Linked DNA regions of Homo sapiens. The protein of the gene in region 1 purifies or fractionates together with the protein of each later gene. This does not show direct contact. Each region holds a gene or a part of one and is shown in the gene's direction. Other genes may lie near its edges.

Region 1 (3,656 bases):
TTGATGGGAACAGGTCCTTGTCTCCTCATTTGTAGACAACCCTAACACTTGCTCTGATATTAGTGCTGATTACTACCCTGAATGTAGTGTTTTGTTTCTCTTCAAATAGTGCTGGCACTGAGTCGGGATTTGTGTGTGTGTTTAGATGCCAGTCTCCTCGTGGGTCTGAATTACCACCTTCACCCCACTCCCATCCCACCCCCAGTTTTCTCTACTAACCTATTTTTCTTTTTCTTTTTTAGACCAATGATGCGAGCTCAGAGTCAATAGCATCCTTCTCTAAACAGGAGGTCATGAGTAGCTTTCTGCCAGAGGGAGGGTGTTACGAGCTGCTCACTGTGATAGGTATGTGCAGGGGCCGTCCTTACTCTCCTGCTTTCTGCTCCAGGGGCTGCTGCAGCTTTCTCAGCAGCCCCAGATGTGTGTACAGCAGAGGCCATCCACTAGTTAGGAGGATTCATGGGCACAGACTTGCTTCTGTGGGTCTTCTCTGTTTTTTTATGCCAAGTATGGGAAGAGATCAAACTTCCAGGAAAGAAGCTCTTTTGCCATCTTTCCTTTGTGGCTGCCATGTTTCCGGTGTCCTGGCCATAGTGAGTCAGAAAGGTTGGCTGAGAAGGAACTGATGAGAGAAAAATCAAGAAATGTGAGCCATGAACATAACAGTTAAATTCTGCTGGGAAAAGGAAAAAAAAAAAAGTAACAGTAGTGAAAAATTTAACATTAAGTTTCTTTTGAAATCAAGTCCCTTTTTTAAAGGAAAATTTTCTTAAAACCTTTTGTTGTTCTTGTCCTTGCGTATGGCATTCCCTTTTTCTTTTAGGCAAAGGATTTGAGGACCTGATGACTGTGAATCTAGCAAGGTACAAACCAACAGGAGAGTACGTGACTGTACGGAGGATTAACCTAGAAGCTTGTTCCAATGAGATGGTAACATTCTTGCAGGTAATAAACCATGAGTGTGTCACATGGAGGGAGGGTGGGCTCTTGGCTCTGATAGGAATTACAAGGAATTACAAAGAAATGAAGGGAGACTAAACGTTCGGAAGTTATGGAAGCTTTCAGTGGAGAATCCTGGCCATTTGGCACTAAGGATTGGGCTGAAATGCTGCTCAGCCTAATTTATATTTCCCTTTTCTTCTCCAAACACTCCCTTCTGGCTTTTTTATTCATTTATTTATTATTTAGAAAGAAGCTAAGTAACTTGCTCATGGCAGAGGCAGGATTCAAACCCAGGCCATCTTGTTCCAGACACAAGGTGCCTGCCCTGCCACCAGTGGCCATCTTCTGGCTCTCAGCCTCCTGTTTGCCTGATGTTCCTTTCTTTTTCTTTTCTTTTTTTTTTTTTTTGAGACGGATTCTCACTCTGTCACCCAGGCTGGAGTGCAGTGGCACGATCTCGGCTCACTGCAACCCCCACCTCCCAGGTTCAAGCGATTCTCCTGCCTTAGCCTCCCGAGTAGCTGGGACTATAGGCGCACACCACCATGCCCGGCTAACTTTTGTATTTTTAGAAAAGACGGGGTTTCTTCATGTTGGCCAGGCTGGTCTCAAACTCCTGACTTCAGGTGATCTGCCTGCCTTGGTCTCCCAAAGTGCTGTGATTACAAATGTGAGCCACCGCATCTGGCCTCTTTTTTTTCGAGACAGGGTCTCATTTTATTGCCCTGGCTGGAGTACAGTGGCAGGACCACGGCTTACTGCAGCCTTAACCTCCTGGGCTCAAATGATTCTCCTGCCTCAGCCCCCCAAGTAGCTGGGACTATAGGCACACCACACCTGACTAATTTTTGTATTTTTTGTAGAGACAGAGTTTCACCATCTTGCCCAGGCTGGTCTCAAACTCCTGAGCTCGAGCAATCAACTCACCTCAGTCTCCCAAAATGCTAGGATTACAGGTGTGAGCCACTATGCCCAGTCCTGACATTCCTTTCTATTCGAGAAGCAAGTAGCCACTCTCTCGTTAAACTGAGAGAGGGGGCAGGCATGGTAGCTCATGCCTGTAATCCCAACACTTTGGGAGGGCAAGGCAGGGAGATTGCTTGAGCCCGGGAGTTTGAGATTGCACTACCAAACTCCAGCCTGGGTGACAGACTGAGTCCCTGGCTCAAAAAATAAAACAAAACAAAACGGAGAGAGACTGTGAGTCTAGTAAGTGCTTGGGAGTTAGACTCTCCTTTCCTGATGCCAGCTTAGAGTCAGGGCCTGGGGCAGTTTTCCTTCAGTAGAGTTAGTTGCAGCCCCTCCCCTCCTTCATTTACAACTTTTTCTGAATTGGTGGTTACCTGATGGTGCTCTAGGACCTGTTCATCTGTTCATAGTAGTTTGGTGGGTCTGAGGATGGAGCAGAAGCCAGTCTCAGCTGGCCTTCTCCTCCATCAACTGTGTTTTCTTTTTCTTTTTTTTTTCTTTATTTGAGACAAGGTCTGGCTCTGTTGCTCAGGCTGGAGTGCGGTGGTGCAATCACAGCTCACCACAGCCTCAACTGCTCAGGCACAGGTGATTCTACCACTTAAGCTTCCCGAGTAGCTGGGACTAAAGGCATGCACCACCATGCTCAACTAATTTTTTGTATGTTTCATATAGATGGGGTTTCGCCATGTTGCCCAGGCTGGTCTCCAACTCTTGGGCTCAAGTGATCTGCCTGCCTCGCCTCCCAAAGTGCTGGGATTACAGGCGTGAGCCACCATGCCCGGCCATGTTTTCTTTTATAATAGAAACATAGTTTTGGGCTGGGCACAGTGGCTCACGCCTGCAATCCCAGCACTTTGGGAGGCCAAAGCAGGCCTAGGCAACATGGCAAAACCCTGTCTCTACAAAAAAATATAAAAAATTAGCTAGGTATGTTGACGTCCACCTGTGGTCGCAGCTACCAGCGAGGCTGAGGTGGGAGGATGACTTGAGCCTGGGAAGTTCAGGCTGCAGTGAGACGGGATCACACCACTGCACTCCAGCCTGGGTGACAGAGCAAGACCCTGTCTCAAAAAAATAAAAAAGAAAACATTTTTGGCCAGGTGCAGTGGCTTGGTGGCTCACGCCTATAATCCTAGCACTTTGGGAGGCTGAGGCAGAAGGACTGCTTGAGCCCAGGAGTTTGAGACCAGCCTGGGCAACACAGTGAGACCTTGTCTCTACAAATAACAACAACAAAATATTTTTTGTTTTCTTATCTTAAAGAGGAATTCTATACGTTGGCCCTTGAAATTGAGATAAGCTTATAACTTCAGAAGTCTTCAGTCAACAGTTTGCCTTCATCATCTCTGAGTCGGTGTGCTGGCACCCTTTGTTGTTGGCAGTTTCCCTATCTGGCAGAGGCAAAGCAGTGCTGGGTCCCTGCAGAGGCAGCAGGGCCTTGTTTTTCCTATGTTGGCAGGCACCTGCTTAGGCTGTTCCCATGACTCTGAGAACACCCAGAAAGTGCCAGGTCCCCCTATTGTCCATGCTGCCATCTTTGTGTTGAGCGGCATCCTTCAGTGCCATTTGGTTCTGACTTCAGCTTCATCATTGCTTCCAGGGCGAGCTGCATGTCTCCAAACTCTTCAACCATCCCAATATCGTGCCATATCGAGCCACTTTTATTGCAGACAATGAGCTGTGGGTTGTCACATCATTCATGGCATACGGTGAGTGGGAAAGGGTTCTTGGTAGAAAGGGGT
Region 2 (3,656 bases), on another chromosome or scaffold:
CATGTCCCTGCAAAAGACATGAACTCATCCTTTTTTATGGCTGCATAGTATTCCATGGTCTATATGTGCCACATTTTTTAAATCCGGTCTATCATTGATGGACATTTGGGTTGGTTCCAAGTCTTTGCTATTGTGAATAGTGCCACAATAAACATACATGTGCATGTGTCTTTATAGCAGCATGATTTAAAATCCTTTGGGTATATACCCAGTAATAAGATGGCTGAGTCAAATGGTATTTCCAGTTCTAGATCCTTGAGGAATAGTCACACTGTCTTCCGCAATGGTTGAACTAGTTTACAGTCCCACCAACAGTGTAGAAGTGTTCCTGTGTCTCCACATCCTCTCCAGCACCTGTTGTTTCCTGACTTTTTAATGATTGCCATTCTAACTGGTGTGAGATGGTATCTCATTGTGGTTTTGATTTGCATTCCTCTGATGACCAGTGATGATGAGCATTTTTTTCATGTGTTTTTTGGCTGCATAAATGTCTTCTTTTGAGAAGTGTCTGTTCATATCCTTTGCCCACTTTTTGATGGGGTTGTTTGTTTTTTTCTTATAAATTTGTTTAAGTTCTTTGTAGATGCTGGATATTAGCCCTTTGTCAGATGGGTACATTGCAAAAAGTTTCTCCCATTCTGTAGGTTGCTGTTCACTCTGATGGTAGTTTCTTTTGCTGTGCAGAAGCTTTTTAGTTTAATTAGATCCCATTTGTCAATTTTGGCTTTTGTTGCCTTTGCTTTTGGTGTTTTAGACATGAAGTCCTTGTCCACACCTATGTCCTGAATGGTATTGCCTAGGTTTTCTTCTAGGGTTTTTATGGTTTTAGGTCTAACATTTAAGCCTTTAATCCATCTTGAATTAATTTTTGTATAAGGTGTAAGGAAGAGATCCAGTTTCAGCTTTCTACATATGGCTAGCCAGTTTTCCCAGCACCATTTATTAAATAGGGAATCCTTTCTCCATTTCTTGTTTTTGTCAGGTTTGTCAAAGATCAGAGGGTCGTGACACAGCTACAAAATTATTAAGGTAATCATGCCAACAGGAAATAAACCACTGCAGTTGATAAGAGCTGTTGGCAAAAAGAGGTTTTTATTATGAACATTTTCCTTTTTGCTTTAAGCATTTCATTCACAGCATTTTTTTTTATTAAACATGATATAAAACTGCAAGAAGAAAGTTCCCTTTGGGTTGGTGGGTGAGCTACACTTTTCCTTCTCTTCCTTCCCTGTCAAAACAGCCCTACGCAAGGGCTGAAGTCATACAGCTCTCATCACTGAGAGCAATGTTAACCTCCCTGAAAATCAATAGCAATGTTTCATCTTACTGATATCAGGTGCAATGCCACATATGCAGTCACCAATATGTAATATAAGGAGAAGTGTGCACACTCTGTAAAACACCACCAGCTTAATCTATTTAGGACAGGAGAAAATGAAGAAACCTCTAAAAGGAATTGATGATGCCCTTCCCCAGTATTTTTGGTCACCTAACTTCTTCATTCTACCCATTGCTTCTTCTCTCTCTCTCCTATTTTTCTCATTCATTCTGATCTGACCACACTGGCCTCCACATTATCTCACACTCTAAGTCCTTTGCACCCCAGGGCTTTGCATTAGTTCTTCTCTATTCCTAGAACATTGATTGTCCAGATATTCTCATAGCTCCCTTCCTCACCTTCTTCAGGCATCTACTCCAAGTCCATTTATAGAGGGGGCTTCCCTAGCCAACCTACCACAAATAACACCTACCAGTCCATTATCTTCTATCCCCTTATTTGGATTTATTTTTTCTTCTTAGCACCTAGTACCTTACCTTATCACTGGTTGTTCATTTGCTTATTGTAACAAATATAGAATGCAAGCCTTGTGAAATTAAGAACTTTTGTTATTTCCTGTAATTCCCAGTAATAGAACATTACTTGGCATTTAGTAGGTGTTCAAAAAATTATTGTGTAATATTACAAAATTGGGTTTTTGTATATGTATGTCTACCATCAGACTCAGGTTCCTTAAAGATTGGTGGCTTTAGAGTTTTCTTTCATATGATGCCATGCTCCCAGGAGATAGCTGATGTGTCTGTGTGTGTTTTTGTGTGTGTGTATAAATAGGTATGTACATAAATATATACACTCATATGTATAAAAATGATCATGAACTGGATTTAGCCAATAATAATAATAATAATAATAATAATAATAACTGACAGCAATATTCTGTTTCCTGAGGATACAATCTTCATTTTACAAATGAGAAAACTGAGGAAGAACAGAGAGGATAAGCAACTTGCCAGCGGTCTCACTATCACCTAGGGTAGCAGGAATTCAAATCCAGGTGGTCTGTATCCAAAGCCTCTATCTTAAATCATGATAAAATACATCCTCATATGGATGTTTTCTTTGGCCCTCATGGTTTGGGCCAACAAAGTTTCTTTAAGTCTGTCTTTAAAGTCTCATTTCACTTGTCAACATTTTAAAACCTGGAGATTCCACAAAAAAATCTAGATTTCTAGCTTCTCTGGAAACACAGGAATGTGTGGTAATAAGGGCCAAATTTTCACATGGCAATGATGAACTGGAGCTGAATTGTCACTCCTCCTTTTGGACTAAACCCTCAGTTTTCACCACTGAGCATTTAATGCTTTCTTCCCTTGGATCAAATGTAAGTTGTGTGGTTCCTAGATCCTATGAGCATTTGGGTTTGCTAACCTGGGTGTCATGGTAAAATAGTAACTTGAGGTTTAACACTACCTAAAGAAAATAATATTAACAAATAATTGTATCTTTACATTTAAAATAGGCAAAATAATTAGTTACCAGTCATTTTTATTCTCTATAAATGAAATCACATATGAATTGTTTAAATATGTTTACATTTAACAAATTGTGTTTTTCATCTTAGAGAAGTGAAACTTACATAACTTTTTTTTGAAAGCTGATTTAGAAAGATTTATTGGAATATACAAGGAGTGTTATGTAGTTATACATGTCTTTCACATTCATATCTGCTGATGCAGCTGAATTCCTATGTGGGTTTTATTTTGTTTTTTTTTATATATATATAAACTTTAAGTTCTGGAATACATGTGCAGAACCTGCAGGTTTGTTACATAGGTATACATGTTCCATGGTGGTTTGCTGCACCCATCAACCCACCATCTACAGTAGGTGTTTCTCCTAATGCTATTCCTCCCCTAGCCCTCAACCCCCGACAGGCCCCAGTGTGTGATGTTCCCCTCCCTGTGTCCATGTGTTCTCACTGTTCGACTCCCATTTATGAGTGAAAATATTTTTATATGGAAATAACTGTGATTTTTTTATCTATTAAAAAATACAATAGCAAGAGCACAGTCTTAGAATAACCATTTCAGTCTTCAAATTTTACTACACGAAAGTAAATTTGTTATTTTGATATTATCAGTTCTGCTGCAAATGTTAGGTAATAATTGGTTTTAAAATGAAAATACTTTTATTTGACAATTGCATACTAGATTTTAAAAAATATAAATAACAAAATACATGGTTGGATTGTTGACTAGGCTAACATTGAAGTGAGTGTTCCTTTTAAGTTTTCTTAGCAAATATATCTAAGGAATTATATCCTGGTGGCAATTGGAATGTAATATCTAGTATATATCCTATAGAAAACATTGGCATT
Region 3 (3,304 bases), on another chromosome or scaffold:
ATAAAAAAAAAATGTTCAGATGTAGTATTTTGTACATTTATCTAAAAAGAAGCATGACGGCCTCCAATATTTATTTAGCATATGTCATGTTCAAGGCATTTTCACATATATTACTTAATTTTTATAGCAAAAGAACTCATTATTCTCATTTTACAAATGAGGAAACTGAGACACAGAGAAATTATTTATATTGATTAAATTTTCTCAGCTACTAGTAATAGAGCCTATGTTTTAATCCTGGTGTTTCTAGTACTAATGCCCTTCCCATTTCAATGCCATTGCATGGCTTACAGTGATGTTAAGAAGCCCTTGCAGGCCAGGTGCAGTGGCTCACACCTATAATCCCAGCACTGTGTGCGGCCAGCTGAGAAGGTCAGCTGACCTGAGGAGTTCAAGACCTATCTGGGCAAGCTAGCAAGACCTTGCCTCTACTGAAAATTAAAAAAAAAAAAAAATTAGCTGGGTGCGGTGGTGCACACCAACAGTCTTAGCTACTTGGGAGGCTGAGATGGGAGGTTCGCTTGAGCCTCGGAGATCAAGGCTGCAGTGAGCTACGATCATGCCACTGTACTCCAGCCTGGGTGACAGAGCAAAGAAGTCTTTGCAGTGCCTTGGAATGAAAAGGAGAGGATAACAATTTGCTACCTTTGTTTGAAATATGGCAAAAGAGAACCAGAGGATAGAGAGATGATGAAGACCCAGTAAAGGGCTATAAAAATCAATGAAGGCATTGGATTCTAGATAAAGTCACTGAATGCAGAGACACAAGTAACAGGATAGGTTGGGTTTGGTTTAAAGGAGAAGGAAGAGATAAATATATATATGCTAAAATTTGGCTTTTCCTCCTGTAATTAAGGATGTTAATGATTGGGTTGGGCCACCAAATGATAATGGAGTAACTAAAGAAGTTACTATTAATCCAGACACTACTTGTGGCAATGACTGGGTCTGTGAACATCGATGGCGCCAAATAAGGTGAGAATATGTATTTAGACATGTCCTCTAATAGTAAATTTCCGTAGCACTTTATTTAAAACAGTTGAAGTTTAAGAATATCAACGTTTTATATGGTATTGTGTTTTTAGGAACATGGTTAATTTCCGCAATGTAGTGGATGGCCAGCCTTTTACAAACTGGTATGATAATGGGAGCAACCAAGTGGCTTTTGGGAGAGGAAACAGAGGATTCATTGTTTTCAACAATGATGACTGGTAAGTAAATATCAATTAAAAATAATATTTTGTACCAGTATGTTCTTGGTTTATTCTTTTTTTTTTCTGTTCATTGACATTTATCATATCTGAAAAATCATGTAGTCAGTGGAGCGAGAAGACAATAGAGATCAAAATTGGGTAGAAGCAAAAGGATGATGGCTGTTACTCCTTCGTTCTCCTGTTTTCATAAGTGCTTTCTGTTGTAAGCAGAATCCTTTCTGTGCACCCTTGCAATATCTTATGCATATATAGAATGCACATTCATATGCTTACCTACACATGCCACAAAATACACAAAGTAATTAATAGAAGGATTGTGAAATCATTAAAAGAACGTTTCTTATAGTCCTGCTCTTTTAATCATGGAAAAATGCTGCCTCAGTACTAAAATATCTTTATTTCTCTTTTTCTCAATGACAGCTCTACCTAGTTTTTTGGTATACTTTCTTCACTTCTCTGTCTCCTTGTGACAAATAACATTTTTAAAGCATATGGATAAATAATATGTATCTTGTGGTTAATGATTTGCTTCAGGAGACTTGAGTTTTAGTTCTGAAACTTCTCATTATTGGCCTTTCATCTGTGATTTTTGTATCCTTTGGCTGTAGTATAAATGATTCCCGAAACTGTAGCTGAGAAGACCTCCTTGCAAACAGTTGAATTGTCTCTGTCCAAGGCCAACTGACACTCATACTTAGCTCACTCTAGTATAAATTATACTTCACTTATGAAAAATAAATAAATACAAAAATATATAAGTCAAGTTGATCTCTTTCCTGCCAAAAAAATGCGTGTCTATTTCCTTAGTTTCCTTCTTTTGTGGATGAAAATACCAAAAAAATCTTTTGTGAAAAAGCTTTATATTTCAAACTATCACTTCCTCATACAAATGCTAGACTGTTTTTATGTACACCCTAAATTCTTTTTGACCTCATGTAGAATAAAAGAAGGTTAAAAAAATAATACCCTTTAAATTTTTAAAGTAATTGGCATTAAGTTCAGTTGAGAAAAAATTTGATTTTACCAAGGTAGCACTTTATCAAAATGTGACCGCTCCCGCCAATCTTCGGTGATATTCTTCAACTTTGATTTTTCGGTTATATTTTCACTACTGAAAAGGAAATTGGTAGGTTTTCTGTAAGGTTACTTTTGGTCCTAGAAAGCTGTTTACACCTACTAGGGAGGCATATGGGTTTTCTTCTTAATGAGACTTCACTGCTTAGGGTTCTAAAACATAAAGTTATGCTGTTTATTTGTGTTAGTCTGTATTCTTGATTTCATTGTTTTGAAGTTAAATCTGAAATTTTATTTTACAGGACATTTTCTTTAACTTTGCAAACTGGTCTTCCTGCTGGCACATACTGTGATGTCATTTCTGGAGATAAAATTAATGGCAACTGCACAGGCATTAAAATCTACGTTTCTGATGATGGCAAAGCTCATTTTTCTATTAGTAACTCTGCTGAAGATCCATTTATTGCAATTCATGCTGAATCTAAATTGTAAAATTTAAAATTAAATGCAAATCCGCAAAGCAATAGCTAAGTGTGTTTCTTTTCTTACATATACAGTAATAGTTACATATCATTAATTTTAAATAAAAGCTCTAATTAGTAAAAAGAGGTTTAAGACACTTGATAGTATGAAATACAATTCCAGGTTACACATAAGTTATTTATTTTGGCAAAAGGATGACTCAAAAATTTTAAAACTAGGCAACAATCTTTACTCATTAAGAGGTAAGACTTAGCTTTCCAAACAGTTTGTCTCCTGTCTACTCTTTTCTCTCCTTGGCATTCTACCAACAAGGCAAACCAAATATTTCATTATTCTTCTCTATTACATGAAAAATCTGTACAAGGGAAGGAAAGCCAAATTTTACCCTTACATAGGTTTCAAAAGAATCCTTTTTCCATAGGCAACATTTACATTTTTATGCCTTTTTATAATCTTTTACCACAAACACATTTAAGTGTTCCTACACACCTTGCATGTAAATTTATTTTTAGTTGTCTTATTTACATATTTTTATGGTCAATCTTAGCAATTTTTAACTTTAATGTAAACCTGGTAAGTTGTTTTAATTATGT

Evidence for each region.
Region 2: the proteins of STRADA (region 1) and GC purify together in Homo sapiens (affinity purification with mass spectrometry; one large-scale study listed by BioGRID and IntAct). This does not show direct contact.
Region 3: the proteins of STRADA (region 1) and AMY1A purify together in Homo sapiens (affinity purification with mass spectrometry, with the first as the bait; one large-scale study listed by BioGRID). This does not show direct contact.

Annotation. Positions count from the first base shown.
Region 1 is NC_000017.11:63,710,695-63,714,350, reverse strand, and holds part of STRADA (STE20-related kinase adapter protein alpha), read left to right. Parts: intron 1-242; coding exon 243-345; intron 346-823; coding exon 824-945; intron 946-3,514; coding exon 3,515-3,623; intron 3,624-3,656. UniProt on the Homo sapiens protein: Pseudokinase which, in complex with CAB39/MO25 (CAB39/MO25alpha or CAB39L/MO25beta), binds to and activates STK11/LKB1.
Region 2 is NC_000004.12:71,777,437-71,781,092, reverse strand, and holds part of GC (vitamin D-binding protein isoform 1 precursor), read left to right. Parts: intron 1-3,656. UniProt on the Homo sapiens protein: Involved in vitamin D transport and storage, scavenging of extracellular G-actin, enhancement of the chemotactic activity of C5 alpha for neutrophils in inflammation and macrophage activation.
Region 3 is NC_000001.11:103,661,801-103,665,104, forward strand, and holds the end of AMY1A (alpha-amylase 1A precursor), read left to right. Parts: intron 1-856; coding exon 857-975; intron 976-1,085; coding exon 1,086-1,211; intron 1,212-2,530; coding exon 2,531-2,720; 3' UTR 2,721-2,754; downstream 2,755-3,304. UniProt on the Homo sapiens protein: Calcium-binding enzyme that initiates starch digestion in the oral cavity.